5 separate regions of the Homo sapiens genome follow, and regions 1, 3, 4 and 5 are each reported to be linked to region 2. Evidence: microRNA targets listed by miRTarBase, many of them from high-throughput screens and not tested one by one. Region 2 holds a microRNA gene; each other region holds the end of a gene's coding sequence.
What was found. The annotated mature microRNA hsa-miR-580-3p reads UUGAGAAUGAUGAAUCAUUAGG and lies in region 2 at 2,819-2,840, shown strand. An mRNA with a match to its seed (bases 2 to 7 or 8) in the 3' UTR can be bound and repressed. Matches are read on the target gene's strand: a 7mer-m8 pairs with bases 2 to 8, a 7mer-A1 pairs with bases 2 to 7 and ends in A, and an 8mer does both.

Region 1 (6,403 bases), not on the chromosome of region 2:
TCCTCTGCGTGGGGCAGACATCAGCCAGACATGTCACCGACCTGATTGGGGGCAGGGAGTAGGAAGTCCAGGACCAAACCATGCTCCCCATGACAGCAGCTGGCGCCTCAGTCCCCATCTGACTCATGTCTCTTCTCATCTGGTTCAGAACTTAGAAGGGCGTGGCCTCTGATCAGCTGGTTCCCTCCAAACCCCAGTGGCAACCTGTCCCTTGAGAGCCAGGAATGGCTCTTAGCAGTGGGCAGTGAGCCCCCGAGAGGATAAAGCGGCTGCTCGAACAGATTGCGAGCACATTACTTGCTGCATGGGAGGAGGTTTAAAACAAATCAAAGATTCCTTGAGGGCATTTTACAGAAAACAAGATGTCAAGAGCATCACTGTTGTTATTTAAAAGCCCATTTGAGGCCAGGCGCGGTGGCTCACGTCTGTAATCCCAGCACTTTGGGAGGCCGAGGCGGACGGATCACGAGGTCAGGAGATCGAGACCATCCTGGCTAACATGGTGAAACCCCCGTCTCTACTAAAAATACAAAAAATTAGCCGGGCGTGGTGGCTGGCGCCTGTAGTCCCAGCTACTCGGAAGGCTAAGGCAGGAGAATGGCGTGAACCTGGGAGGCAGAGCTTGCAGTGAGCCAAGATCGCGCCACTGCACTCCAGCCTGGGCGACACAGCAAGACTCCGTCTCGAAAAAAAAAAAAAAAAAACAGCCCGTTTGAGATTGCTGACATGAACTTCTGAAAGATGACTACGTGCCTCCCAAGACTAACCGTCAGCTTGGAGGGCTGAGAAGGGGGTTCCCAGCTGGAGTCAAACAGTGGCTCATGTGTTTCATCAGGAACGCTCGTCATTTCCCCGAAGGAGTCACTGATCACATCAGACCACAGGGGTCGGCCCACCTCGGGTTTGGGACAGTGTTCTTTCCTGGAATGAAGCAGTGGCAATGCCTCTGGCACAGGATTGCTGGGCCTGCAGGAGGCCAGGAGGCACCTCTGTGCTGTGTTCCCAGTAGGAGGAGGCAGCTACTACTTGTAAGGCACACATATCATTTTGCATTGGAAAAGTGAAGATAGGCTTGCTGCAGAGGGAGTGATGGGAGAGTTCACCTTAAATTGTTCTACTGAGGAAGGGCTCCAAAGAGCCAGTGGGTTTTCCGCAGGCAGACGGGGTTCTCCCTGTCCGGCTCACCAGTGCAGGAAGCCAGGGAAGAAATTACTGTGGGAATTCTGTTATTTCACAAGCACTTCATACCTGCATCCCTGCACTTGGCACCGCAGGCCTCAGTGACCAGCTGCCGAAACGGTAATTTCAGCATTTTGGTCAGTAAGCAAACTGGAGAAGCAGCTGGGGTGGGGCGCAGTTCAGCCCGCTACCCTGACACTCTAGGCCCTGGCATTTGCTTTAGCTGCTTTTGTAGAATTGACATGAGGGAGACTGTCCCTCTAGAGGAAAACGCTCAGCTATTACCAATGAGGAAAAGGCAATACTGATGTGCTGGGGTTTTTTGTTTTTTTTAATCTCAAACTTAGGAAAAGATGCAAGTGCGTTACAAAGAATTTTGTTTCCTGAACCGTGTGAGTCAGTTGCTGAGAGTCTGCTACCCGCCCACGATACAGACACTGAACAGGAAGTCAGCATGGACGCAGTACTCCTAGCAGGTCCTCAGGCCCAGTCATGTCCTCTAGGAAAAGGATCCAGTTCAGGAGCAGGAGCTGCACTTGGTTGTCATCTCTTTGGTCTCCTTCTGATTGGAAGCTTTTTGACTTCCAAGACGTGGATACTTTTGAAGTGTTCTGAATTTGTAGAATGTTCCTCAGTTTGTGTTTGCCTGGTGTTTCCTCAGCACTGGATTCAGGCTAAGCATCTTTGGCAGGAGTGTGACAGCACTGACACTCTTGGGTGGCACGTACTTTCAAAGTGCCCATTACTGATGATGTGCATTTGACCACTTGGTGAAGACGGTGTCTGCTGGGCATCTCCAGTGTGACTTTCCCTTTCTAACTGAACAGTGTTTTGTGGCAGACTCTCAAAATCTGTAAATACCCCTTCCTCAGCAAACTTTCAGATCAATTCATATGTATTGGGGTGTGTGTGTGTGTGTGTGTGTGTGTGTGTGTGTGTGTGTGTGTGTGTGTGTAGTTCCCTATTTAAAGGGCTATACTGTATTCCATTAATAGTAACTGTTTGTTAGGATGCTCAGATTGTCCCGAGTTTGGCCAGTGGAAGCCCCTTCACATAGGCTTCGGTGTCCTTAGGACATGTCCTTATCATTCCTTGAGCACTCCCTTGCTTTCTGGCAAAACAGACTTTGGGTTCATCCTGTCCTTTCCCTGCCTAGCCCCGGAATCAGCCCTCACTCCTTTTAGTGGAGAATAATACTTTTAGCAGCAAAGGTCTGGGTCTAGGGGTGCTCACTGCAGTTGGGGTGTCACTGTTCCCAGGTGCTCCCAGTGGACAGAGGTCGTTCTTGTTTTCTTCTTTCTGTGTCTAACTCCTCAGAGAAACCTGGCTCCCACTGTCCTGTTTACCTGCCTGACTGCCTCCATACATAAGCAGCCTCCCTCCCCTGCCACCACCCCGTCCCTGCAGATGCCTTCCTCACCCACTTGGGCTCTCATACTGCACATCAGGCTGCCCACACTGACTCCCCCTATCGGACCACCCCAGCCCTGCACATACACCCCACACGGATGCCAGCCTCACCCTGCCCATGCTGAGTCCCCGTGCTGTGGTGTTCCTCCACATGGACAGCTCCACACCCTACTTGGGCTGACACCCGCCCTCCCCACAAGCACCCCGTCCTTACCCTGCACTGGGCCACCCCCACGTGTGGATGTCCTCTGTGGTAGGCAGAGTGGCGCCCCTAAAGATGGCCACACCCTAAGCCCTGGAACGTGTGAATGTTACATGGCAAAAGGAACTTTGCAGATAAAAATTAAGAAGATTGTAAACTTTAAAACAGGGAAATTATCCTGGATCATCTGCATGGGTCCAATGCAATCACAAGGATCCATAAGAATAGAAAAGGCAGGCAGAAAGAAGGGTCGGTGGGAGAGAGGGACTGGGCCTGCTGCTGCTGGTGGAAAATGAAGTGCCACGAGTCAGGAGGGAGGGTGGCCTTCACAGACTGGCAAAGGCCTCAGCTGGCAGCCAGCAAGGAAATGCTGACCTCAGCTGGCCCACAACTCCAAGAAATTAAATTCTGCCAACAATAATCCTCAGCAAGGAAACGGATTCTCCCTTAGAGACGCCAGAGGGAACGGTCCTGCCAACAGCAAGACTTTAGCCTGGAGACACTCGTGTTGGACTTCTGACCTACAGAACTGAGATAAAATTGTGGTTTTTATTTATTTATTTATTTATTTTTGAGACGGAGTCTTGCTCTGTCGCCCAGGCTGGAGTGCAGTGACGGGATCTTGGCTCACTGCAACCTCCGCCTCCTGGGTTCAAGCGATTGTCCTGCCTCAGCCTCCTGAGTAGCTGGGACTACAGGCACCTGCCACCACGCACAGCTAATTTTTGTATTTTTAGTAAAGATGGGGTTTCACCATGTTGGCCAGGCTGGCCTCAAACTTCTGACCTTGTGATCCGCCTGCCTCAGCTTCCCAAAGTGCTGGGATTACAGGCGTGAGCCACCGTGCCTGGCCAAATTGTGCTGTTTTTAAACAAAGCCTGTGGTAACTTGTTATAGTATTAACAGAAAACTAATACACACTCCTCATTCAGTGTGGGCCCTACAACCCACACCAGGCCACCTGTCAAGGGAACGCTTACCTTGATCTGTCCCACTTAATAGCTTTAGGCCTGATTTGTTCAGAAAGAGAAATGACGGAAATAGACGGAGAAAGGGAAGGGGAAGTTCTGACATGTTTCTGAACACCTTGAAAGGGATGAGATTTCTGAGCCCAAGGGCTCAGAAGGGCTTTCAAGATATCTCTAGGAATCCTCAGTCTCTTGGGAACACCAGTAGTTATTTTCTGCCCTCAGAGTGCTAAGAACATGCATGGTCCACAAAACTTCCAAAAAGGAAAGCTGTACTTCCTTTGGAAGCAATAGCCACATTAACGCAGCCTTTATTATTTAAACAACGAATATCCCTGGCTCTGTGGTAGTGACCATTTCCCACTGTAATTACCGTTGAACGCCAGCTCTGGGGGTGTGATGTGGCGAACGCATAGTGAGGTCCACACTCCTTGGGACCGCAGCCTGAGTTCCTGTCCAAAGGCTTCCCTGTAGCTGGGTCCACCCACAGGCTGCTGTTGAGCGGTAGGTGTGTGTGGAGACTGCAGAAACAGGAAGTGTTTGTGAAAGAGCACGCTTTATTGGGAAGCAGACTGCTGCACAGTGACCAACAGGCCACCCAATGGGCACTTACACATCGTACTCCAAAAGACACAGGATGTTTTGCTAATAAAAATCAGTGGGAACAGGGATTCCTCTGGGCAACTCCCCCAACCTCATCCCTTTCAGGGATTGAGAAATCTCCCAACCATTTTCCTGATGACAGCCATGGTTCATTAGAGATACAGCCCCTCAGGGGTGCCTTCCTGTTTCTTATAAAGAACATTTTCTTTAGATTTTTTGAAGTCTTCATTTGTTACTTTCATTCTACGTTCTCTTAAGGCCATCAGACCAGCTTCTGTACAGATTGCCTGTAAGAAAGAAGAGTGTGTTCAGAAAGTGACATACTCATTTTTATTCTAACAAGGAATTCCAAAAAACCTATTCTGAGGCCAGGCGCGGTGGCTCACACCTGTAATCCCAGCACTCTGGGAGGCCGAGGCAGGTGGATCGCCTAAGGTCAGGAGTTCAAGACCAGCCTGGCCAACACGGTGAAACCCCATCTCTACTAAAAATACAAAAAGTTAGCCAGGGACGGTGGCAGGCACCTGTAATCCTAGCTACTCGGGAGGCTGAGGCAGGAGAATTGCTTGAACCCGGGAGGCAGAGGTTACAGTGAGCCGAGATCGCGCCACTGCACTCTAGCCTGAGCAACGAGCGAAACTCTACCTCAAAAAAAAAAAAAAAAAAATCTGTTCTGAAATAAAGCATGAGACACCTAGACTAAACACAAATTGCTTATTTGGGAAAGATTTGATTTTTAAAAAAAATGTTTTAAGCATCCTATTTTCTGAAAGGATGTGAAGTGGCTTAAACTGGGAGTTACTGTAACTAAGACTGACCCAAGGGTCAGGGCTGTGGGTTCTAGTTTTGGCTCAGGTTCTAACAAGCTATGTGGCTTGTACAACACCACTTTTGTTAAAGAGAATAATATTCCTAGGAAATAAACAAAATTATGCCCTGAAACTTAGAGGCAATTGACAGTATATGTCTATTTCATTTACTTATAGTCATAAAAGAACATGTATTCTGGTTAGATACTGTAAGTGGCAGTATCTATACTATGGAATAATACTACAGAGTATAGCATTTATTCCAATATATTTAATTTCTCAGTAATTACTGGCCCAAAGTAAAAGAAAACAATAACCCATGTTACATGGGTTACTGTTATTGTTTTAGGCCTGATCTGTTTAGAAAGGAAAGAGAAATGAAGGAAATAGATAGAGAAGGACAGCAAACAAACATATTATGTGGGTTACTGTTATTGTTTTCTTTTTCTTTTGGCCAGTAATTACTGTGGCAAAAACAAGATGTGGCAAAAAACACAATCCTGGCACAGAAGTTTGTTTGGTGATGGCCATCAGGTTATTTACTTCAAATGGTTCGGGTGAAAAGAAAGTTTTGTGTATAGAAAGAGAAAAAGCAAACAGGTAAAATGTTAACTCTTGGCAAATCACTGTGCTATTGTTGCAACTTTTTTGAAGGCTTGAAAATTGTCAAAGTAAGTTCTTATCTTAAAATTTTAAGATCTTTCAATTTTTAAAAAAGAAGATAGATTTTACTTGCCAACAGAGACATCTAGTTCTCTAGGACTAACTGCCAATGATCCGTGGGCTCAGGGCAGGTGCTGGCCTGGAAAGGCACTGCTTGTGCTGTCCCTACCTAACCATGGCATTTATGCCCAACGAAAACCCAGCTCTTTCCAGGAAAAGCAGGTAGAACCCATATTCAACGCTGCCAGACCTTGCTGTAAATTCTGGTCAGCTGGGAGGAAATGTCCTAACTCATGTACATTTGTCATAAAACCAAGAAGTATAATCTGGTACAACCTTCCAGAACACAGATTGGGAGATGAATGCAGCGGGTGCTTGGTCCCCACTCTGCGGCTCTGGGGAGAGTTCTCCCAGGACATACCCTTCCCCTGACCTGGGACTGAGCAGCTACATTTGACACACCTTGAGAAAGTCACCTGGGCCTAAGGCTTAGTACCAGCGACTCAGCCTTGTGGCTCCAGGTGATTTAGCGTCATTCACTGCATAAAATGATGCATTAAGAATGACTT
Region 2 (6,403 bases):
TGTAAAGAAGGGATCTGTTCACAACTTGGTTTTGATTGGAACTAGGTGCAGAATCCTAGGCTAAGCCGTTCATCAAACTAATGTTATATGGAAAGCATTTTAAAATGCAATATCCTGATGTTTTACAGAAAGTGACCTTTATGTTACTTTGGCTAAGGAGAAAGCATTTGCCTTTGTTTGAAGCTACGTCCTTTCCCTGAAGATTGCAACTCATAGGAGAAAATATTTTTGACACAAAAAATTATAGTTTCCTTCAGGAAAGGGAACAAAACAGAGAGAGCCTGTAAGCTAATGGAGGAGAAAGAATAAACAAAAATATTTAAGATGCCATAATGAGAATAAACAGTTTTGAGATGTAAAATAATTGGGAGAGCCCACTTCAGATATAGATCTCATAGATAGGAAGGTTTAATCGATGAGATGATTCTAAATTTAAAGATGAGAAATATCTTTGTTCAGTCTTGGTTTTACTAGGAGTTACCTGGGAACTAGAATACTTGCAACATCTGAATTAGTGAACACAAGATCCTCTCTAGGACTTCAGGGAGAGCCTGTCAGTTTTGAAATTCAGTTTGATAGTTTGCCCCGGTAACAGACATACTTCATCTTCCTAATATGGGAATAATTTTTTTTTGCCTTCCTTCTAATCATGACTATTGCCTTAATATAATAAATGCAAGTTTAAATTGGTACATTAGATTCTTTTTAACGTAAGGAATTGTGTCCATTGAAGACGAGATTAGTAGGTACATAGAGGTTGCTATCTGGTCATAAAGAACTGCATTGTGATTGCTACTGATGTATCTTATTTTTTCTGATTAATTTTATTTTTATTTTTTGAGAAGAAATTTCACTCTTATTGCCCAGGCTGGAGTGCAATGGCGCAATCTCGGCTCACCATAACCTCCACCTCCCATGTTCAAGCAATTCCCCTGCCTCAGCCTTCCTGAGTAGCTGGGATTACAGGCATGCGCCACCACGCCTGGCTAATTTTGTATTTTTAGTGGAGACGGGGTTTCTGCATGTTGGTCAGGCTGGTCTCGAACTCCCGACCTCAGATGATCCACCCACCTCAGCCTCCTAAAGTGCTGAGATTACAGGCGTGAGCCTCCGTGCCCAGCCGATTCTTACATCTCTTTAAAAGGAAGACGGTCCACCCTTCTTTGTTTCTCCATCCTGCTGTCTAGATGATGATAGGATTCCTGGAGTTCCAGCATCTGTCCTGGAACATAAGGATTAAAGCCACCTGCTAAGGATGTGGACTATAGAAGGGGCCTGGGCCTCTGATAATCTGCTAACTTGCCATAACCACCTATCTCAAGACTTACACGAGAAATAAATTCTGCATTGTATAAGTCTGTACTATATTGGACTTTTCTGTTATGTGTAGCCAAACTAATCTTGAATAATGTATTTCCAGAACTGATAGTCTCTGTGGTGGTGGCAGCTACCTGTTTACATAACCCTTATCACCCCCTAATGTATTTTTTTTAATTGCCTGTTTCTTCCCACTAGACTTTTTAAGGGCAGGGACTTTGCTTGGATTTTTCTATCTCCAGCCCCTTGAACAGAGCTCACCATATAGTAGGCGTTCAGTAAATATTTGCTAAATGAATGAATGGTGCTTGGAACTAAGTAGATCTTTAATTCATTGTAATTTAATGCTCTAAGATAGGCAGCTTGGGGCAAGAACAAACGGATTCTAATTTACTCTATGTTTTCCACTTTTCCCATGTAGAGTACAGTCATATATTACCCTTAAATCAAGTAATAGTAGTATAATCTGTAATGTAAAAAGTTTGCGTTAAATTCTTTATTAAACATGACTAAGCATTCTGTCCTGATATATCTAAAAGAAATGGGAGAAAGTTTCTAATTTGTTCCCTGTGAAGACTGAACAAAATAAATCATTAAGCAATTTAAATTGCATTAAGAAACTATGTCTAGATTAGAGAAGAGACATGTAATTATGATCCAGGCTCTGTAGTAAAGATGCCTCTATTTGAATCCCAGCTTTACCATTCACCAGCTCTGTTAACTTGGACAAGTTACTTAACCTCTCTGCACTGTTTTTTTTCTGTTAAGCAAGGAAACGAACAGCCCTTTCTTACTAGGTTGTGAGGTCTAATTTGATAAAGCTTGGCAGGTACTAGTATTAATACAATGCTTAAAATTTAGTGAACACATTCTAAATGTTAGCTATTCGTTTTTTGAAATTATTTTATTATTAGGAAGGACTTTACAGATTATTCTCTATCAAAATGTCTTGCAATTTCTATGTATGAAATCTTTAAGAATTCAGTAAAATTTTAGTTCTTTTTTCTTATATGCTTACATGATTGCTACCTCTTCTCTTCATGCCTTGCAAAAGGTAAAGCAGGACAGTATGCCACTGTCCTCAGGGGCTTGTCACATTTTGGAATTCAGGTTACCTGGTTGGTTCGCCAACTCAGCTCTTAGGTACCTTTAAAAAATATTATGATGGTTTTTTTTTTTTTTTCATTTTTCGAGTGGGAGTAATAGTCTCTTGCAGTAGTCTGTGTCCTAAACTGAACTCTCTCATACCTGAAATCTTTAAATATGTGAATAACGATTATGTTTGGAAGATTTAAATTTAATTATTGGTGGAAAATTGTTGACTTAATCATTCACTTCTAATTCTGGTTCTTTTGATTTTTCATAATTAGGATTTTGAGTTGTCTCCTGGTTTTTATTATTTTGCACATATCTGAGTAAAAATACAGATATGTGAAGTTAGATAAAATTTCCAATTGGAACCTAATGATTCATCAGACTCAGATATTTAAGTTAACAGTATTTGAGAATGATGAATCATTAGGTTCCGGTCAGAAATTTTTCATTCAGTTTCAGAATCTTTGGTTTTGACAAAATTGTTGTCAGTGTTTTGTTTGTGTTCTGATCACTTGGTACCCATTCTCTCTCTCTCTCTCTCAAAACATTTGGAATTCTTCAAACTACAAAATTATCTTAACCTCTGAAGTTCCATCAAAGGGTATTTGGCCTGAAAAACTATTATCAGCCGTAAAGTACTCAGGAAACAGTACTTTAGTCAGTAACATTAGTCAGTAACATTAACACGCTAATTGTGAAACCATTATAAAGGCATTTGAAAGTAATATTGAATAATATTTTGATGATTGGAAAAAGATTGAATTGGATTTTAAATGTTTAAGACTTTCAGAACTGGTGTTTTGAAGGGTACGATATGCCCACACATCGGGCACTAAAATCTGGTAGTTTTAATGAATTGCCATTTTGATTTCGAGTATAATCAAGTTTTGCTACTGTGGTGCTTAATCACATGGAACTGAATTTTTATTTACCTCCCCATTTTAGTATCACCATCATCATCATTATCATCATTATCATCCCCTTTCTTCTCCTTCTTCCCTAAACCTTGCAACTCATCACTTGAATGTTGGCACAAGGTTAAAGATATGGACTTTGAAACTATTATTTTCTCAAGTTAGGAAAACCCCAATTTTTATCTCCAGTTTCATGGGATCACTGGTCCTAATCTGTGTCATAATAAGGCAATATAGTTCGGCCTCAACAGAAATAGATGGTATGGTAAACAGAATAATAAACCCCTAAGAATGTCTATGCTCTTATCTCTGGAACCAGTAAAAATGATGAAATTATTCAGGCAGGCCCAGTGTAATCAGATAAGCCCTGTAAAACAAATTTCAAGTGTGAGAAGAATTTGACAAGCCATTGCTGCTTCTAAAATATTCAGGACCACAGACACACACACACACACACACACACACACACACACACACACTCACACACACACACACACACGCAGAGAGAGAAGTGAGTGAGGAGATAGATATGTTAATTTGTTTGACTATGGTGATTATTTCACTGTATATGTACAGTATATCAAAACATCACTGTTGTGCACTTTAAATATATACAATTTAAAAACATATACAGAGCCACATGCAAAGACTGGGGAGAGGCCTCTAGAGCTAAGGTTAAATGCCAGCTGTCAGTTTGCAGGGGAACAGGGATCTCAGTCCTATAACCATAAAGAACTGAGTTTTGGCTTGGCTAGGTGGATCATGCCTGAAATCTCAGTGCTTTGGGAGGCCAAGGTGAGAGGATCACTTGCAGCCAGGTATTTGAGTCCAGCCTGGGCAACATAGCAAGACCCTGTCTCTACAAAAAAAATTTTTTTTTAAAATTAGCCAGGCGTGGTGGTGTGCACCTATAGTCCTAGCTATCTGGAAGCTGAGGTGGGAGGATCAGTTGAGCCCAGGAGCTCAAGGTTATGTTGAGCCATGATCATGCCACTGCCCTCCGGCCTGGGCGACAGTGTGAGACCCTGCCAGTAGCCTGAATGAGATTAGAAATGGATTCTTCTTCAGAGAAAGATGCAAACCTGCTGACACCTTGATTTTAAACTTGTGTGACCCTAAGCAGAGAACTAAGTTGAACTATGCTATGTTTGAACTTCTGACCTACAGAAGCTATAAGATATTAATACTAAATGGATGTTGTTTAAAGTCACTAAGTTTGTAGTAATTTGTTACAGCAGTGGTAAGATACTAACACATGAAGTGTGGGAAGGTATGTAACCAAATCATTTATTACTAGAATAAAGGATCCATAATTCTATTTCTTCATCTACAACCCTTTAAAGTGCTGACTATGAATCAGACTGAAAAACAGAGTGCCATAGTAAAAAAATTAATAGCTAGTGTCAGGTTTATAACTGATTTTGTTGTTTGCTTATTATGCCCATAATCTTACCACCTAAAGACTATTGATGTTTTAATATATTTCATTGTTACCTTACTCTTTTTTATGCTTATGTAAAAATATGTGCCAAATTTTCAATTGCTGTTAGGGTAATTTTCTGATGTTATTAAATAATCTTAACAAACATTATTTCTTATACTACAATAATATTTCATCATTTGGCTCTGCCATGCTTTATTTAGCATTTCTTTGGTAATCTCTAATATTTAGTCTTTTTTTTGTATGATTGTCATATTCCTTGCACTGGACAATTTCAGGTCTAGTTCAAGTCATAAAAGGATTTTCAGTTAATTATGTTATATTTAAACTCACATCAATTGGGTTTTTTTAAAGAAAAAAAACCCTAGATCTCGAAGATGGTTTTGTTATCAGCACATTCTGCATTGAGCTTTCAGCCAACTACTTAATCTATGCTTAGCTTAAAAATAAGATTTGGCTGGGCGCTGTGGCGCATGCCTGTAATTGCAGCACTTTGGGAGCTGAGGCAGGTGGATCACTTGAGCTCAGGAGTTCGAGACCAGCCCAGGCAACATGGCAAAACCTTGTCTATTTTTTAAAACATAAGATTTGACTTTGTTGTGGTATAAGTTGTTTCATAGAATATGAAATTTGAAAATTTGAGTAGTATTTGGTAATGTTCAGAGTTTTAAGCCTTTTGAGTTGTAATAAGTATTTGTTAAATCAGTTTACCATTACACGAGTTTTACATTGCCTTTGAAGTCGTCAGTAATAGAAAAATAGTGTATGTACTAAACTACACAGTATTTTTTATTATTTCAACAAATATTTCTTGATACTACTGTATGCCAGGTACTAACTACATCAGACAACTGGAATATAGTATGGAATAAAATAGTCAAGTCTCTGCTCTCATAGAGTCTCTGGGGTAAGGGGAGAGGTGTGGAGAGACAATAAATATAAAGAATGTGTATTATATCAGATGAATAAATGCATTGAAGGAAAATATAGCAGGATAAGAGGGTAGAGATTGATGAAAGAAGTTCAATTTTAGATAATTAAGAAAAATGAAAATATTGACAGTTGAAATGGAAACTGTTTACCAATATAAAAAATAGTGAAGAAAATTGTTCATTAAATGTGATTTTTCTATGTGATAGTTCATGTAGGAGTATTTTGTATATAAATTTAAATTTAACCATTTAAAGTACTTAAATTGTCTTTTCTATTATTCTAAATAGTTTTAGTTAAAGATGTTTGTTGATTTGAAGTATTTCATTGGTTCTCCCTTATTTTGTTATTTATTTATTTATTTTGAGACAGAATTTTGCTCTTGTTGCCCAGGCTTCAGTGTAATGGCACGATATCGGCTTACTGCAACCTCTGCCTTCCAGGTTCAAGCGATTCTCCTGCCTCAGCCTACTGAGTAGCTGTGATTACAGGCACCCGCTACCACACCTGGCTAATTTTTGTATTTTTAGTAGAGATGGTGTTTCACCATGTTGGCCCAGGCTGGTCATGAACTCCTGACCTCAGGTGATCCGCCTGCCTTAGCCTCCCGAAGTGCTAGGATTACAGGTGTGAGCCACTGCCCCTTATTTTATTTTGTTGGGTTGATCACACTCTTGATTCTCTGTGTTAGGATATTAATCAATTC
Region 3 (6,188 bases), not on the chromosome of region 2:
CACAGCAAATGTAAAGAAAATTCATGTGGTGTTCCTAATAATTATTTTAATGTTGTTAAATGGACATGAATTGAAACAGAACTTATTTATATTCACTTAACGTTTGCATATAAGGTCAAATTGCTTAAATACTATTACAAGAAAAATATTTTATGACTCTGAAGCCATCTGATTTCTGCATATTTCTATAACAATAAAACAATTTGAATCACCTTAGAATTCACTGTAATAGGATTTGGCCATGTAGCACATATAATCAGATTGAGACCAGTTAATTTCGGAATTCCTTTTTCTAACTGAAATCCTACTTAATTCAACAGATATTCTCAATAGAAAAACAGAAACCTCTTAAGAATGAATGCAAGTAAAATATACATCTTATCATAAAAACAATCAGTACATTCTAACCAAAAATATATATCAAACCACAGTGAAAAAAGTAAAAACCTAGTATTAGATAAAATTTTACTTTCTTAACCAAAAAATTCATTGCACATATTTACCATTTATCTGTTTTTTTAAAAATCCCCCAAAATATTTCCAATAACTGCTAAGTACTATACTTTTTGCTTGTTCATGAGATTACTAAACATTTACAATGCAAGTGTATTGGCTTGGAGGCATCCTTGCAGTAAATGAGGGCAGGATTCTTCAATACACTGTAAAATGCACCAACCTTAGTCAGGTTTTTAAAATGGTTCACTTTTAAATATGATAGCTGGTAGCTGTCCAAGTCCATTAGCACCACATATAGTGAGTTAAAGAGTGTTTTCAGAGAAGATGACTCGTCTTTTTTGTTTTTAATGTTTAAAAGTTGTACAATTAAAAGAAATTGACTTCTTGGGTCATGTGTTTTGAATGACACTTTTCATCTTGCTCAGGATTTCCACCCTCCTCCCCGGATTATAAGCATGAAGGTAGGAAAATCTGGGGGAAATATTTTTGCACTTCAGCAAAGAATCTTGCTAATAATATCCATGATTTGGTTCAATTTCCAAGTCAGATTAGTTTCTTTTGTTAGAGGTCTCAATATGTATTTACAGAAAGAAATGAAGATGATTCTGTAGGACAAAGTAGCAAATACTTTCTATATGCAATCCATACACAATGCAAGAATTCACCCAGATCATTTAAAATCATCTAATGTGCATTATTTCCTCCAAGTGGAGCTCTTGAACAAATACCTTACATCTCATACTTCATCTTTATTACTTCATCTGTTTCAAGTAGTAACACAATCACTCAATTTACACAATGGGGGAATACACACTTTGAATCCTAACCTGTGAGGTAGGGAAGTGCACTCTGGTATTATGGCCATTTCACACAAGGAAAGATTGAAATAGGATTACTTTTTCAAAAAATATGGCAATCATTGATGAGATCAGATGCTTCCCTTTCAATATGTAAATAAAAATGCAAATAAGCCCTTCTCATTTTTGTAAAGTATATCTGGATTGAAAATAGTGATGAAGGCCGGGTGCGGTGGCTCATGCCTGTAATCCCAGCACTTTAGGAGGCCGAGGCGGGAGGATCATGAGGTCAGGAGATCAAGACCATCCTGGCTAACACGGTGAAACCCCATCTCTACTAAAAATACAAAAAATTAGCCGAGCGTTGTAGTGGGCGCCTGTAGTCCCAGCTACTTGGGAGGCTGAGGCAGAAGAATGGTGTGAACCCAGGAGGTGGAGCTTGCAGTGAGCCAAGATCGCGCCACTGCACTCCAGCCTGGGCGACAGAGTGAGACTCCATCTCAAAAAAAAAAAAAAAAGAAAAGAAAATAGTGATGAAAAAGTTAACTTTCAATATTCATGTAAAATGCTTTTTACTGGTCTCAACACACAGACATGAAGGAATACTGACATTTAAATTATAATGTGCTTTAGCAATAACTTTTCACTTTTCTATTCACCCACATTCATGGCTCATTTTTGGCCGAGAATAAATATTTGCACTAGATTATTAGGATTTTCCAGGACCATTACTACCAGGCTGGCTTTGAATCTACTCTCCCCTCTTTGGAGAGAAGTTGATGAATATGGCTCTTAAAGAAGTAATTCTGCAAGATGAATCCTATATTATCTGTGATAATTTACTTGGGAATTTTCCCTTCTCCTGGATGAAGAATAATATTCCCCTTGTTTTGTTTTTGCTGTTTCATTTTTTAACTTTTCACAGATAAATCCATGCAGAAATGGATATATACAGATCTGTTGAGGCAGAAAGAAAAGCGGGGGAAAAACCCACTCTCCCTGTTTCTACACTTTTGCACTTAGTAACAATTTGCCTGATTGAAGGATTTGTGAATGGTTCTCTTTTTTTTTTTTTTTTTTTTTGAGAAGGAGTCTCGCTCTGTTGCCCAGACTGGAGTGCAGTGGTGCAATCTTGGCTCCCTGCAACCTCCACCTCTCGGGTTCAAGCAATTCTCCTGCCTCAGCCTCCCAAGTAGCTGGGATTACAGGCGTGCACCACCACGCCCAGCTAATTTTTGTATTTTCAGTAGAGATGGGGTTTCACCACATTGGCCAGGCTGGTCTCGAACTCCTGACCTTAGCTGATCCACCCGCCTTGGCCTCCCAAAGTGCTGGGATTATAGGCGTGAGCCACTGCCCCTGGCCAAATAGCGCTTATAAGAGACTTAAGACTAGGAAACCACTCACGTTTAATATCAATATGCATATTCTGCACACTATCTGCTGAAATTGGGAAAATGCAATGTATTTTTTGAGTTAAGCCTGCTGCTTAGGAATGTAACAATTACAAATCACATTCACAAAAGTAGCTCACCTTATTCACCATTTTAAACATATATGTGCACTGTAAAAAATAAGTTTTTAAAAACTTAATGTGATGTTAGCCTATACACAGAGCTGAATTATCAAAAGGAAACCAGACTTTGTTATATCAGAGGTCATTAAAAAGCTTATGGCATACCATAAGTGCTCAATAAATACACCTTCCTCCCCCAAAGCACTCCAATCTCCATATGCCATTTTAGCAACTCCCTGTATGTTATGTCATTTTACACTGCAATCTGTGCTGACTTCCTCCAATCCAGAAGTGACTGCATTTCAGTGGTAGAGTTTTATAAACTTGACTTAATCTTTAGCACTTCTGCGCTGGAATTGTACCTTTTAAGTTCTAGAGATGATAAATCTCTCATTTGTTACTGAGTAAGAAATGCCACAAATGTATAAAAGAATTCTTCATTAAGCTTGTTTTTTCTGCCGTGACTCTGGAGAGTAAGTCACTGTAGAAGATTGTTTATTTTATTATCATCAGAGGCCATTTCATTAACCAGCTGTTCTATTGACAACTGAATAGCATTCTTGACTAGAGAAGAGGCTGTTTCAATTAAGAGTGTTTCATATTGTTCTGAAGTTCTATCCTCAAAACCATTATCATTAGCAAAAACCCCTACTTGCTCATTTTCAGCTGAAATTAAGAATTGCTTAGGGACATTTTTAGATTTTGTAACATCAAATTCACTGATTTCAGTGTCTGTAATAATAATAGCAATTGGCTCCATTCTTTTGCTTTCTTCTGATTTGGATTTCTCTTCAGTGATCCCATTTTCTTTAAAATCTGATTCTTGGCTCAATTCAGTATCTTTTGGCTTAGTTTCTTCAGCTACAATCTCTGTACTTTCATAGTCTTTTCCATTTGGTGCACTTTCTAGGGTACTGTTACTGGCTTCTTCCACAATTTGTTGATCTGGAATTGCAGGTAAAGGAGGAACATCAGAAAGTACTGGCTGCTGATGGTCTGTTTCTGAAGTTTCAAGTGGGCTTGCTTGCTGGGGTTGAACATCTTGTTTTTCCTTGATCGTTTCAATTTCTTCAAGGATTAGAGTTCCCGTTTGAATAGCAGAATGCCCATTATCTAATCCAAGTTCTACTGAAATCACTTTCTCTCCAGAAGTTGTGCTATTGCTCACATTTGATTCACAGACCTCATCACCATCTTTCCGTGAGATGCCTTCACTTAGATCCTGGGTTGACTTAGCCTTTGTTGCCTGATCATTCAATGGGGTCTGTGTTTGTATATCCAAAATTTCAGCTTCTTCCTGGACTTTGATGCTGCAGTCTGAGTCTTCTATAATTTTGGAATGATTACTCCTTTTTGGCCCTCTTGGGAATTTTATGCAGGGAATCTTAAGTCTAGATTTTGCCTTTTTCTTAGAAAGATCAGCATCCTCAGCATTTATTGCAGGTTGCATTTCACCCTCCAATGGCTTTTGCTGCTTTGAAGACTCTGACCTTTTCCTGCGTGTTACAAGACGTTTGAGTGAGGCCCAGGCCCCCCGTGTGGGCTCTGGCTGATCAGAAGCTCCTGCTTCTTGTGGACACTTCCTTGCCACATCAGCAGCTTCAGAGCCAGCTTTGGGCTTCAGTGCTTTGGCTGCTTTCTTTCTTCTCTTGAAGCAAAGCATGGATGCCTTTTCCTTCTGCCTTTCAGCCCCAGGACTACCTTCTGCTGATCTCTTCTCATCCTTGTTTTCTACATGAATTTCTGAAATTGTGGTTTCCATTTTTACACTGCACTCTTATTCTCTAGAAAACTGTATTCTCTCTTCCTTAGCAGCCTTTTGTGACAAAAAGATGAGCAAAAATGTCACACTAGGTAAAATTTCTTCCAGGCATATTCATACCTTTCATCTTACTCCATACAGTTGTTTTAGGTGGTTTCTCTAGTATAGAAATGCCCAGTTTCTCTATGGCTTGTAATTTCTCTCTTTAATTTCTTGATGAAAGCCCTTCTTTGGATAAATTTTTGCTTTATTTAAAGATCAACCTGATGAGAGAAAAGAAAGTGGTATTTTATTTCACTATGAGCCTATTATTTTCTGTGGAGACTATTTCAGTGAATGTATAAGATTCTACCAGGCATATTTTCCATATAATAACTTAATGAAATGACTGGAGAATAAACATTGGGGTTTACTTTGGCCCTATTAAAGAGTTCAGTGTGATTCTATTTTGTTTTATCCTCCTTGTTGAAACTTCATTTTGGATTACCCTGCAAGTCTGATATTATCAGTTCTTTAGTTGTGTTGTCTGTGTGAATTGCTTATGACTCTAAAGTGCAAGTTAAGCAAACAACAAGAACCAAAAATGAAGTGCAGGATGAAAAGCAAGCTGATGTAATCTTTATCACACTCAATAGATAATTTTAAAGCTGCAAAGGACTTTAGAGATTATTTGAGATTACTCAAATCCAGCCAGATGACAAAACTGAACTCCAGAGGGGAGCAGTTGTCTTGTCAAAAGCCATGCAACTAGATAAGGTCATAGCCAGAGTTAGAACTAGAGACTTTGACTCTCTAGTTTTACCATTATAACATAAGGTTTCTGTTCTAAAAATGTATGTTCCATCAAGGAAGTGCTATTTTTCATACATATTCTTAGGAAAATTTAGCATTACTGTCATTTCCCACTCTTAAATTAGTTGTACAATTTTGACATTTTCATTTAAGTACTGTATCTGCTGTATCACATGTTTCCACCATAATCTGCACATAGTTGGAAGTCAGTAAGAGTAGTAATAGCTGACATTTATTGAGCAATTCTTGGGTATTAGGCAGTGCATGCACTTTTACATACATCTCTAATCCTCACCACAATATTACAAAGATGGTGGTATCACCACGTACAGATGAAGCAATTTGGCTGAGATTACGGCAGAGCTGTAACAGAGCTCAGATTAACACAAGATTGCTTGTTGCTTAAAGCTTATGTTCTGAAACTGGGCTTTAAGAGTTTCGTCAGAAAATGAATTGTTTGGGGATACTAATCTGCAGTGTTTCATTAGTAAAAAAATTAAAAAATTGATTAATGGTCATTTAACCATAAGGCACTTATCAACTCATAATTGAACCACGAGTAGACTGAGTTCTTGTCATTTGAAAACCAAGCTTTTGAAATTCTTTATATTTTATTTTTTTGGTTCAGGAACTAATTTAAAAGCCAAAAATAAGTTGGCAAACTATGCAATTGGCAAACTTAGATAATATAAAGGTGTATTGAAAATTTAATCCTTAGAATGGTATGATGGCACCAAAGAATGGAAATGGGAGGTGATTATCCAACAAAGATCCTATGAATTTTAGTGGGTGGATGCCCTAAAATAAGCAAAGGGACTCATTCTTTATATTGTTTTTATGTAAATCCTTCACTGAAGTTTCATTT
Region 4 (6,403 bases), not on the chromosome of region 2:
GAGAGGTGAAAGGGACTCGGAGGAAACTCCCAACTGCCTTCCTTCCCAGCAAGTACCACGGCTATGAAGAACTGCTGACAGCCAAGCCTGATCCAGCCTTCATTGAGCCAAAGGGTATGTGAGGGCATATCCTTGCTCTAGGGCAAGAGGCCATCTCCACAGCTCAGAGCAAGTCAGGGTCAAGCCAAGGCTGGCACCAAGCTGTCTTTTCCCAACTAGGGTGCTGTCCTCTGTCTAAATACCTGTCAAAGGGCTCCTTTTAGGGTGTCCTTTGTTTGAAGCCCCACATATTGGGACCCCTGTCCTGGCCTAGGCCTTCACTGGCTTATGGGGAGCCACAGTTTATTCAGAGATTCTAGTTGGTCTCAGCCTAGCTGCTCTGGATGATAAAGTCTCTCCTCAGGAAAAGTGTGATGAATGAACACCCAGAATGGCCAGATTCTTGAGCTTTTCCCAGCCCAGGTTAAGTTCCCAAACTGAACGTCCAAAATCGTTCCTATCTGGTTGGAGGCAAAGGAGGCAGCTTCATCTCTGTGTTAATCAGTACTTCCAAAGCAACTGGCATTCAGCTGGGCTGTTCTGGGTGTTAGCCCCTGCGATATAACCCCCTGAGGTTAATGGGGTCACATTGGAGCCAGCCTTTTCCCCCACTCCAATACTATTTACCCATTACAATCTGTGCTATTTTTCCATTATAATATGGGACAAATACTCACTGAAGAATGATGGAACTTCAGGCACTGGAACAGATCCGGAAGAAACCTGGGGGCAGTGTTTTCTTTTGGGGACTCTCAAATCCTTTTACCTAGAGCTGCTGTGAGACTGAGGAATGAAGCAATCAGGGGAGGCATCTGGGAGGAGGAGGGGGAAGTGCCTTGACTCAGTCTTGCCTTCTTGCCCTAGGAATCCAGAAGAATGCACAAGCCCTGCAACAAATGCTGAAGCACCCACTCCTGTGCCACTCCTCCAAGCCCAAGCTGGACACTCTTCAGAAACCCTATGTTCACAAAGAGAAACGGGTAAACATCCAGCTCACTGAATGTGTAAATGGCCCCTGAGTACCGCCCACAATTACAGATGTGGCTGTCACCTTGGGACCCTCTGAGGGCCATGCTTTCCCAGCACCCCCAGATGCCCCCCAGCCTGTTGCTGTGACTGTATGAAGTTAGGCCAGGGAAGTCTGTGCATAAACCTGGGATAACACCCTCCTCCATGACCTTCTGCCAGGCCCAGAGAATCCCGATTCCACCCCCAAAGAAGACTAGAGCCCAACTTCTGGATGACATCTTCATTCGCTTGCGGGATCCCCGGAACATTACAGAGGCTCCACTAGGTACGGCTCTGCCACAGCTGCCAGGATCCCAGATCCAGTTCACGCCTGCTGGCTAAAGGCAAAGAAAGGGCTTGTGTCAGTGCAGGAAAGGCCCTTAGAGAGCAACTGCCTACATCAGTCTCTACATGTAGATGGACAAAAGGAGAGCCAGCGTGAGGCAGGGAGTTGCCTAAAATCACACAGCATGTTAAGGTCCTGAACCAGGGCTTAAGATAGAGTCAATGCATAGGGGCAGTAGGAAGTCAGTGACTTCCCAAGCTGGAAAGGCCATTTTTAGCCCCTTAGCATCCTCCTGCCACACCATCCCATTTTCCAAGGGTCTCTGGACCCAATCCTCTTGCTTCTGGCTAGGTGAGAACCAGGATGAGCTTGGTGCCTCTCCTGGCTTCTTTTCCTGCAGGTGCTGTCCTGCACCAGTGGACAGAACGGCGGCTGGTGAACCACAAGCAGTACCTGGAGGCCAAGAGGCTGTTGAAGGAGTTCCAGGCACGTTACCGGCAGCTGGTGAGTGGCTCTCTGCGCACAGTGTTCGGGACTACCCCGCTCCCCATGGCCTGCCCAGCGCTGAGTGAGAGCCAGCCCAAGTTCGGCCACTTCCTCGAGTTCATGGATGAGTTCTGCCAGGAGCCCACAGCCAGTGACTCACAAGGCTAGAGCTGTGCATGGGGGCTGTGTGCACCACCCGGCCTGTGCCCCAGCTCTCCCCGAGGGCTCTGTGCCCTGGACCGCACCTCAAGGTTGACCAGCCGGCCACAGGCCTCAGAGCTCAGCTGGGCCCCACTTGCTGGCCACAAGGTGGCATCCCCTTGTCAGGATCTCCCCTCCTTGGCCCAGGCATGACCTGGTGCCTGGCCCAGCGGCAATAAAGAGTGGGTGCACAGGGCAATAGACTGGGTGCCACATGCATTCTTTCTTGGAACCCAGGCCACAGCAGCATTGTCACACTTCCCTCTAAAAATGGTTTTCCAGTTCAGATGCAACAGGGATACATTTGTTCTCTGTTGTATGAGAAACTGACACCAAGGGGATCTTAACAAATTCCTGAACAATGGCTCCAAAAAAGGGTATTTTTAAAAACCAGATCTTGTGAGTACAGCCCTAATGTGCAGGGACAGTGTCATCCTGTATATTCGTTCTTTACTCAGACTCTTTCTTGGTTCCTTCATTAGGAGCATGAATGGTTGAATGTGAACATGACAGTAAATTGGAGCAAACTGTAAACTGGACATAACTTATGCCAAAAGACGTAGTTGTACACCATGGAAACCCCATCCCTGCTCCTAATCTCTACTGCCATTCTGAATGCCAAAGCAAGACATCCAACATGGGGCATCTCCCAGAGCACATACAGCACCAAAAATCCACACACAGCCTAAGCTTAACCCATGTTTTTGTCTGAGATTGTTCACCAGAGACAAGACTCTGACTATAAACAGAACATCCACTTTCATGAGTTTCCTTTACTGTATTCTCAACTTGGGCCTTGCTTCAAGCAGGCAAACATACATTGAAGAATGCACTTTGGTACTGTTTAAATAACAACACATCAGCCCACTTGATTCCATGCCATGTCCTTGCTGACAGAAACATCCCCAACAGGGCATGCCCTGGTCCAAGTCCTCTGTCTTTGTCAAAATGCTCTTCTGATGAGTTGGAGAGGAGGCAGCCAGCAGTGGCAGTCCACAAGGATCCAGGTACCTTCTCCAATCCTAAAGCAGACAGCAGGTTGAATAAAACCAATACACAACCTATTTTCTAGGCAGGAGGGGAAAAGGCCCTTAGGACAATAATATTTGTACAAAGAGTTGAGAGTAAACAAACAGTGTATCAGGTTCAAAAAAAAAAAAACTATTCGTTGGCATTTAAATTTTTTTCCCTTGCATAGTATCTATTCTCTCACTAGGACTTTTAAGTGCTCTGCTGGAGGCTCAGCGTTGGTAATACCATGTTTGATGCAAACTTGAACCCAATGCTCTCATTGGTGGCACAGCTTTGGAGGGTGGTGGCCCCAAGAAGGGGCAATCTGCCTGCTGCTATATTAATCTGGAACCAGGGCCAACAGCTACTCTTGAACTATGGTATTTGAAGAGCGAGTTCATTGCCTGTTTTACCTTAAATGACAGGAAAGGAAGATGAACAAACCTTGCTTTGCCTTGGCTTCAAACTAGTTCTTGATTTAAGACACCAGAAAGGGAGAGAGGGAGTCTGCTTAGAGTTTGAGGTTGCCTCTCACAAGATGACAGTTAAAAGTTGCCACCTTACTTAAAAGGCATTAAGGAGGCATTTACTCACAAAGGAGAGAGAGTAAATTTTTTTCTTAAGAGGAAAAAAATACTGATAATACATAGAACAATCTGCACATCCAGTCTTGGCACTTTTTCCAATTTGACTGATCTCTAAACTGGTGACCCTTGCATATATCTTAGTCTCTTTTCTACAATCTTCTTCAGAAAGCTACAGCAGCTAACAATCATGTATAAAGATGCATTTCCTAGATCATCTTCAGAAGAAAATCTCTTCAGCACTTTCCCTAGAATCTGTCTCCTGACCACCCCGCCCCAGACCTGCTTTCTCTTTTGAGAATTCATAACCAGGTATGTTTAGATACCAGTTCAAAAGACCACTCTATGGGTTGATGAGGAAAAGGCTGCCTGAGGACAATTTAAGACCATAATGAGTTTCCAATTTTTAAAGAAAATTTGGCTAGCTGGCTTTTAATTCTTAATTAAAATCATTAAATTTAATTAAAATTATTCCAATCAAAATATATCACTTTCCAAGATTCCACATTCATATTACTTACTTATACTATGGAGACTTTCTCTACCTGAGCATGTATTCAGGGGCTATAGGTACATTTAACTCTAACTAACTGAAAAAAATCAGGAAGAAAAAACTATTAAAATAAAATAACCTCCTAAATCATTTGGGGGTATCCCCATCATTGGTGCGTGTGTCTGCGTGTGTCAAACTTTAATGATTATTTATTCAGACCCTGGAAAACCACACTATAAAATAGGGCACTGGATCACAAGTTCGTTTGGTTAAAAAAAAAAAAAAAAAAAAGTGGGGGCGGGGGGCAGAGAAGAAGTTTAACTTGGATGATTTCCATGCCCATTCCAGCTGTAACATTCTATGACTGTGACCCAGCCTTTGTTCTCTTTTCTCACTCTCCTACTAGACATTTCAATGAAAAGTTAGGCAGGAAAAAGGAAAGGAATCCCAAGTTGCTGCCAGCTCTGATGAGAGATCAGGTTGGGGGAGAGATTAGGTGGTTACTGAATTGAGGTGTGGGCCTCCCCTGACCATGTCAGTGATCCACAACCCACCTCACTTCTTGGGGCTTAAGCTAAAAGCAGCTTCTGAAGAGATGTTAATGTCCTGTAATCACTAGAGGAGAAAATTCATTCTCCTTCCATAACATTACTTAGTAAAGGAAAAGCGGTGGTGCAATCAAATTCACAAATACCAATGGGGTCTCTAAAATGTAGAATGCAGCTTGCTGGGTGCTGGTCAGTTTTCTAAATGGGACCAGAAATGGCTTTCCTAAGACCATAAATGAACTCTCCAGCCACACATACATTCAAATGCATTCCATTAGACATTGAGCTCCTCAAGAGCAGGAACTGCTTTATCTCCACAGTCCAGCTCAGGGTTGGCTCAAGTCTGAAGCTCAGTAAATGTCTGTCAAATAGAAAAGAAAGGATGAGCCTTCGGTCATCAGCTACATGAGTCAGGCACGGTGGCAGCTTCCCATTTTAGTCAGTTTGCCAGTTTGTAACCAGACAGTAATCAATTAAGAGCTTTAATCTCTTAAGGACATTTTTCCTTTAGGGAAAATGAACAAAAAATAAAACATTTATTACCAGTGCTGCTTCCAAGCAAAAATTTAAAAATTAAATTAAAATTTAAAAAATAAGTGAAGCCACTTAGGAGTTTCCCTGGCAAGCCTCACCCAAGAAGACTTAACCTTTTTTAAAAAGAGGCAAATAGATTAAAGGGGCCAGGGGCTGGATGCATAATCCCCTGATCTGATACCAACCCAACAGGCCCAGATGACTTCTTCCAGCAGATACAATCAATGGGTCAAGAACATTTTCTCAAAGTTTCTTTCCCTCTCTATGGAAAAGAGCTGACAGCCCCCTTCTAAGGGCACCACATTTCCTGGATTTCCCCTCAGACTGACCTTCACCCTCCCCCCTAACTTCCCCTTTAATAATAAAAAAACCCAGAATGCATATATACAAGGAACAGAGTAAGACATGGGTAATTTGTATGGTGAACTGGGCTTCAATGATTTGTGAGGAATTTGTTTTGTGAAATCCTGCACCTCTTATTCTAGCTCACAAACCCTTCCCATCGTTCTGTTTCCTTCCTTGTCCTTTTCTGTTCCCCCAAATAATACACATCAACATATCGACTTTTAACCAACTTCAGAATCATGGAAGGAGAGAGGGAGATTTTTCAGAAAGAAAAGCATTCAGGTTTTAGTTATTAAGGATGGGAAGCATCTTAAAATTCAGATAATACCTTAGTGGTTTTTCCTTCCTCCAAAGCCAACCTGATTAAAGATCAACCCTCCTCCCTCCTTAACCTAGACCACTCTACCTATATTTGAAGGACTGTTGCTCAGCAGGAAGTTTAGAAAACAACTGTCAATACCATCCTAGGCATCACTGTAGGTACAAGGGGGGAAGGCAGTAAGCTGGACCTAGAGTTTGGACTATTTGCTTAACAAGAATTTGTTCTTCATTCTGCACTTGTTACAACTGCTATGCAATTCTTAAAATGAAAGTATTAATTTGGGGAAATATTTAAAATATATATCTTTTATCTATTAAAAATATTTCTTTTTACCAAAGACAAAAATCAATTCCAACTGAAAAGTGTTTTTCAAATTACTGGAGATATAGAGAAAGATGGCAAGTGGAAAAATAAGTGTCTTTGCTCCTACCAACAAGACTAGCCTTCCAATAATATTTACTAAGATCAAAAAGGAAATGCGTGAAATGGCAGTAACTGATAAGTTTCCTCTAAGGGCATTTATAGTAAGGTCACCCTCCCTGTCTT
Region 5 (6,403 bases), not on the chromosome of region 2:
TAACCAGGCTGGGGTGCAGTAGGAGGATGGTTTCTGTGTGCTGCTCTAGTGGCCCTTGACTGGACCCACCTGGAGCTGAATGCTCTCCCCGTGAAGGGCCTGACAGAGCCAGCTCATCTTTGTGCACATTCAGACACACACACACACCCCCCCCACCGGTCTCCTGCTTGGCTCTAGGCTGAGCCTGGGCCACAGTGACAGAGCAGGGAGTTCAGGGCAAAGGGAAAAGGAGCCGATCCCCAAGCTTTGTAACAGAGAAACAGGCACAAGCAGGGATCCATTTGAGGGATGGGGAATGGGGGCCCAGCAGCACCAGCTGACCCCCCTCCCGCCCACAGCACAGTGAGTGTGAAGGACATCCAGGCGCACCTGGCTCAGGGCCATGTGGCCATCGTGCTGGTGAACTCGGGGGTGCTGCACTGTGACCTGTGCTCCAGCCCTGTCAAGTACTGCTGCTTCACCCCCAGTGGCCACCACTGCTTCTGCCGCACTCCTGACTACCAGGGCCACTTCATCGTGCTGCGTGGCTACAACCGGGCCACTGGCTGCATCTTCTACAACAACCCAGCCTATGCCGACCGTGAGTGCTGGGTGGGGTGGGTGAGGCAGAGTGGTCCACATTCACTGTTCTGTATGCCCAGTGCCCACAGTTCCCACCCATTCAATCTAGTGTGGCCAGGGCCTCCCTCCCTACCTTTTCCCCAAAGCCCCTGCTCCTCCTGGGCTCTTGTCACTGTGGCCACCCCTCAGGCCATGCAGGCAAACCTGCCGCAAACTGTGCCAGCCTCCTCTACACCCTGGCCACCCCTCCCTCTCACACCACAGGCCCCACGCCACTGCCCAGGTCCCTGCCTTACCCTTTCATGCTGCCCAGGCTGCACCCCTCCCCCAACCACCAGGATGGCCGGCACATTCCTCAGAAAGAAAAGCCCGGCCAGACCCAGCCCCTGCTCTAGACCCATCCTGGCCTGCCTACTGCCCTCCGGGCACAGGGAAGGGCTGCCCTGACTCTCATAGACTGGATTCACATAGACAGCCCCTGGACGCCCTGACCACATAGACTTACCCCGTCTATGTGGCCTGGAGCACGTTTCTGCCCCTCTCTGGGCCTTTCTCCAACTGCTTTACTGGGGAGGAGTCAGAGAAACCTCATGAAGACCAGGATGGGCAAGGAGGGCTTCCTGGGGGTGGAGGACTTGAGTTGAGAGGAATGGCCATGTGGATGGGAAACAGACCTCACTCAGCTCCCCTGGGCACTGTGTCGGTGGTGTAGGTGCTCTCTCACAACCCACTGACCCCGTTCTGCCTTCCCCACCCCCAGCAGGAATGTGCAGCACCAGCATCAGTAACTTTGAGGAGGCCAGAACCAGCTATGGCACAGATGAGGACATCCTCTTTGTCTACTTGGACAGCTGACAGCAGGAGCCTGGTGCGCCTAGGCCCTCGGACCCCATCCCCACCCCAGCCGGGCCCGCTCAGGATGCCCTGGCCCAGGCTTGGGGCTGCTGGGGTTGGAATGTGGAACTGCAGCCTCAGCCCATCTGGCAGAGTCCCAGGAACTCGGAGACTGGCACAGCTGCTTTGTCTGCCAGTGCCGTGTGTTGTCATGTCACTCACCCCAAGCACCTGCTGGCTGCTGGAAGCATACCCCAAGACCCCAAGCCTTGACTCCAGCTGCGCCCACAGGAAGTCCAGTCCCGACAGTGCCCTTGTTGCCTTTGAGCCAGATCCATGGCAATGGTCTCCCCACAGACCGCAGGACTGAGCCTGGAGAGAGAAGTTGCTTGACGGATGCCACTTGTCAGGACAGTATGTGAGTGTCTGGAGACAGCATAGCTGACCCCAATCCCCCAGGGCTGAGGACCCCTCCAGGCCCCTCTCTCCTGGAAGTGCTGCATATGCCCCTGTGCCCAGTGGTTGATGATACCACCACCACCTGCCTACCCATGGGCCCAAGTTTCTGTGGCTCATTACAGGGCATCTGACCCCTGCCACCCAGCATAGACACACCTCACAGCTGCCCTGCCATGCAGAGCCCTGGCCGCTGGAGACTCTTAAAGCCCCCACAGCCCTCCAGGTCCTCCAGCTCTGTCAGATGGAGGGCTCTCGGGCCTAGATCCCACTGGTAGGCCTCGTGGCTGGCAGCAGTGCTCTGGGAATAAACAGCTGCCCTAGCCCCAGAGGGATCCCTGCACCCAGGAGGCCTCCTGACACCAGCCAAAATCCTGACAGCAGGGTCTGCCCTCTTGAGTGTGGGGAGCCCCTAGTCCTTTAAGGTTGGCTGCTAAGGCCTGTGCTCCAAAGCAACGGGCTGGGGCAGCCTGCAGCTGCCCACCCAACCTGGTCTTCACACCAGATTGCACAGGATACTGGGTCTTGTCTATCTTGATGGAGAAGAGGGGTTCCTGCCCAGGATCTTACAACACAGCAAGTAGCATAGAGCTCTTTCCTTCCTCTTTTTTGGGGAGGTTGGGGTCAGGGGTTGTTTCTTTGAGATTTAAGTTTTCATTTTTGAGGGGTAATCACCTTCAAGTAAAACAGTAATAGCAAGAGTGAAGGTACTTTGGAACCACTAACACCTCTGCACAGGGCAGTTAGCCAGCTCAAGTTCTTTTTCAGAGAAAGGGACTTGGCCAGTGGTTTAAGTACCTGCCCCTTCACCTCTCAGACGAGGCAGCTGACGAGGCAGCTGGCCCAGTCTTGGGAGTCTGCTCAGGACAGTGGTGGAGCTGGGTCTTGAACCCCAGTCTGCACCTAAAAAACTAAAGGAAATGGATTTTTTTTTTTTTTTTTGAGACGGAGACTCACTCTGTTGCCCAGACTGGAGTGCAGTGGCACGATCTTGGCTTACTACAACCTCCGCCTCCTGGGTTCAAGCGATCCTCCTGCCTCAGCCCCCCACTAGCTGGGACTACAGGCACATGCCACCATGCCCGGCTAATTTTTTTGTATTTTTAGTAGAGACCAGGCTTCGCCATGTTGGCCAGGCTGGTCTCGAACCCCTGAGCTCAGGTGATCCACCTGCCTCGGCCTCCCAAAGTGGGAAATGGGTCATTTTCAAAGGGGCAACAGTGATACCATCCCTGCACTCCTGGGTCCTGCTCTTCCAATGCCCAAGGCATGGCATGGTGGCAGCTGTGCCCCCGCCCATTGCTTTGGAGCACAGATGACTCTGGGGGCAGAGGTGGGCTCTGTTTAGGAGGGCAGTGAGACCACCCAGCCAAATTGCTTCTCAACCCTAGACAAAGCCTTTGGCCAAGAGGGAGGTGCTGTTAGTTGGGCAGCCCTTCTGGGTTTCAGAGACCGGTGTTGGCTCTAGACTGGTCTCATCTCCATTGCCTTAATGCCAGGTGGCCCAGGAGTACCCATGCACAGCAGCTGTGGGGTGTGGGCATCTTCAGGTGGTGTTCTGGTAAAATTGTTAGAATAGCTGTATGAAGGAAACCAGTGGGAGGAAATGAAGTTTTCAGGATGGTGGGATGTGATTTAGACAGTGCACATGCTGTTAGGGCTGTCACTAGGGAGTGGCCTTCATGGAGGGTGGTAACAGCACCTCAGTCCAGCCAAAATGTTTAGAAACACTCAGTCTCTGGTCCCAGAGGATGGCTTCTCAGGGCATGCCACAAGTTAAAGGTCACCTTCCTGAAAGATGAATGAGAAAGCTGCCCATTCTCAAGACTCATCTGCCTAGGGAGGGTCACAGAGGCAGGATGTAAGACACACTGTGTTGCATTCTTGCACAAGTCATGAAAATGGAGCCAGAGAGCCTGGACATCAGGGACTTTTGCCCACAGCACATGACACCGACAGCTGCCCAGCCTGTTCACATGCTGGGGACCAGCACAGCACCTGAAGCCATGTGGGACAGTTGGGCTTTGTTCATTCTAGCCACGGGGATGAAAGGGATCTTTTGCATTGCAGAGATTTTATATATATTTTGTTTGTAATGAGCCATTCTCAATAAACATTATTCTCACTGCAAAATGGTGGTAGCCCCTGGCTGGCCTTTATGAAGCTGTGTTGATCTGCAGAATTCCTGTCCCTTCTCAAGTTCTCAGCATGAGCACATGGGAACCCAGGTCCTTGTCTTGCCATACCCAGTTTAGCTGGGACTGGAATCCTGTTTTCTGTTTTCTAGGGCCATATCCATCCCGTTCAGGCCTGGATGCTTGTGCCTGTCCTGGACAGGCAGTACTAGAGGTAGAAGGGCCTCGGGGCTCAGCTCAAGTGAACTGCAACAAATGCAACTACAGGAGACACAACAGAATGAGGGAGATGTTGAAGCAGGAGAGACGAAAGTGGGTGGGATGGTGAGTGCTGGGTGGAGCTGGCTGCTCAGAGCATGCAGAGTTGGGGTTGAGGTAGACAGACCAAGAGTGCAGTAGTGCGATCTCGGCTCACTCCAACCTCCACCTCCTGGGTTGAAGCAATTCTCCTGCCTCAGTCTCCTGAGTAGCTGGGATTACAGGCACACACGACCACGCCCGGCTAATTTTTGTATTCTTAGTAGACACAGGTTTTACCATGATGTTGGCCAGGCTGCTCTCGAACTCCCAGCCTCAAGTGATCTGCCTGCCTCAGTCTCCCAAAGTGCTGGGATTACAGGCATGAGCCACTGTGCCTGGCCAATGTCATCACTTTTAAAGAAGCACTTCTGTTCCTTCCCATCCTCCCTCAAACACATCATCTTGTCTGTCTCCACTGCTATAGCCCCAGTATCTGACACCTAGTAGATGTTCAGTAAATGTGAGTGAACGGATAGTAGGCTAAAACAATACCTGTTTCAGCAGCTTTCCTGTACTTTTCAGAACTAAAAGTAATCATTAAAGGGGAGGCAGAAGGCCGGGCACGGTGGCTCATGCCTGTAATCCCAGCACTTTGGGAGGCCAAGGCGGGCAGATCACCTGAGGTTGGGAGTTCGTGACCAGCCTGACCAACATGGAGAAACCCTATCTCTACTAAAAATACAAAATTAGCTGGGCATGGTGGCACATGCCTGTAATCCCAGCTACTCAGGAGGCTGAGGCAGGAGAATTGCTTGAACCCGGGAGGTGGAGGTTGTGGTGAGCTGAGATCACATCATTGCACTCCAGCCTGGGCAACAAGAGCAAAACTCTGTCTCAAAAAATTAATAATAATAATAAAGGGGAGGCAGAACTTGAATCCTTTGATGTCACCCAGGATTCAGGAGACACTCTCTCCTACAAGGAATGGTGGAAGGAGCAAGATGTACTGCCCATTAGAAAAGCTTCAAGTGACCAGGTGTAGTGGTTCACGCCGGTAATCCTAGCACTTTGGGAAGCAAAGGCTGGAGGATCACTTGAGGCTAGAAGTTCAAGACTTGTGTGGGGCCGGGCACAGTGGCTCATGCCTGTAATCCTAGCACTTTGAGAGGCTGAGGTAGGTGGATCATTTGAGCCCAGGAGTTTGAGACTAGCCTGGGCAGCATGGCAAAATCTTGCCTCTACAAAAAATTAGCCGGGCATGGTGGCACGTGCCTGTGGTCCCAGCTGTTCAGGAAGCTGAGGTGACAGGACCTCCTGAGCCCAGGAGGTCAAGGCTGCAGTGAGCTGTGATTGTGCCACTGTACTCCAGCCTGGGCAACAGGACAAGACCCTGTCTCAAACAAACAAAAAATGGCCAGGCATGGTGACTAACACCTGTAATCCCAACCTTGGAAGGTAATCCCAACCTTGGTAGGCAGATCACTTGAGCTCAGAAGTTTGAGCCTAGTCTGGGCAACATGGTGAAAGCTCATCTCCACCAAAAATACAAAAAATTAGCCAGGCATGGTGGTGCACACCTGTGGTCCCAGCTACTCGGGAAGCTGAGGTGTGAAGATGCTTGAGCCCGGGAGGTCGAGGCTGCAGTGAGCCATGATTAAACGACTGCACTCCAGCCTAGGTAACAGAGTGAGACCTTTTCACTTAAAACAAACAAACAAACAAAAAAAAACGAAAAACACTTTTTTAAAAAAAAGGCTTCATGTTATTTAAACTTAGGATTCCCCTCATGACAGGTTTCTGCAAGTGCAGGTGTCCCCTGGCCTCCAATCCCCCTGGATGGAGAATCAGTGCAAGAAAATTCTGGCACTCTGGCTTTACGTCTAGTCTGAGTCAGCGAAGAACAAAATCCCTGGGGCCTCAACCAGAAAGCAATGTGGCTATGGAGTCAAGGGATCCCCAAAGCTGAAATAAACAGAGTCAGTAATGGTGGCCTTGCCACTTGATACAGGGCTGTGGGTGGGCTGAAAATATTGGAAACTCATTTGTTTGAGCCACAAATTGCTGCCACACTCTTTGAACCTAGAAGTAAGAAGTGCCCTCATTTAATGGCACAGAACCAGTCTCTTGCCTGCAAGGCTCTTGCCCACAATCCCTGGTCCCTCACTTATTCTCTACCT

Region 1: the mRNA of PSMC1 is a reported target of hsa-miR-580-3p. Seed matches in the 3' UTR shown: 7mer-A1 at 4,471-4,477.
Region 3: the mRNA of AKAP5 is a reported target of hsa-miR-580-3p. Seed matches in the 3' UTR shown: 7mer-A1 at 2,335-2,341.
Region 4: the mRNA of XRRA1 is a reported target of hsa-miR-580-3p. Seed matches in the 3' UTR shown: 8mer at 2,801-2,808.
Region 5: the mRNA of GUCD1 is a reported target of hsa-miR-580-3p. Seed matches in the 3' UTR shown: 7mer-A1 at 3,230-3,236, 8mer at 3,669-3,676, 8mer at 3,954-3,961 and 7mer-m8 at 3,970-3,976.

What each region holds. Positions count from the first base shown.
Region 1 is chr14:90,270,519-90,276,921 of GRCh38, reverse strand. PSMC1 (proteasome 26S subunit, ATPase 1) reads right to left here. Exons shown (of 11, transcript NM_002802.3): 11 at 1,493-4,649. The coding sequence ends at 4,515. NRDE2 (NRDE-2, necessary for RNA interference, domain containing) reads left to right here. Exons shown (of 14, transcript NM_017970.4): 14 at 1-6,403. Among named protein-coding and RNA genes, the nearest start is that of PSMC1, 17 kb to the right of the region's middle.
Region 2 is chr5:36,144,344-36,150,746 of GRCh38, reverse strand. MIR580 (microRNA 580) reads left to right here and starts at 2,759; the gene lies at 2,759-2,855. All of the region lies in intron 1 of LMBRD2 (LMBR1 domain containing 2), which reads left to right.
Region 3 is chr14:64,466,738-64,472,925 of GRCh38, reverse strand. AKAP5 (A-kinase anchoring protein 5) reads right to left here. Exons shown (of 2, transcript NM_004857.3): 2 at 1-4,794. The coding sequence starts at 4,531. The coding sequence ends at 3,248. It also overlaps a transcript of ZBTB25 not described here. Among named protein-coding and RNA genes, the nearest start is that of AKAP5, 4.3 kb to the right of the region's middle.
Region 4 is chr11:74,838,784-74,845,186 of GRCh38, reverse strand. It overlaps XRRA1 (X-ray radiation resistance associated 1), which reads left to right. Exons shown (of 19, transcript NM_001378157.1): 16 at 1-114; 17 at 904-1,019; 18 at 1,228-1,333; 19 at 1,734-4,277. The coding sequence ends at 1,987. It overlaps RNF169 (ring finger protein 169), which reads right to left. Exons shown (of 6, transcript NM_001098638.2): 6 at 2,774-6,403. Among named protein-coding and RNA genes, the nearest start is that of RNF169, 93 kb to the right of the region's middle. RefSeq lists an enhancer at 135-1,334.
Region 5 is chr22:24,538,019-24,544,421 of GRCh38, reverse strand. GUCD1 (guanylyl cyclase domain containing 1) reads left to right here. Exons shown (of 6, transcript NM_001284254.2): 5 at 339-580; 6 at 1,325-3,984. The coding sequence ends at 1,416. Among named protein-coding and RNA genes, the nearest start is that of GUCD1, 14 kb to the left of the region's middle.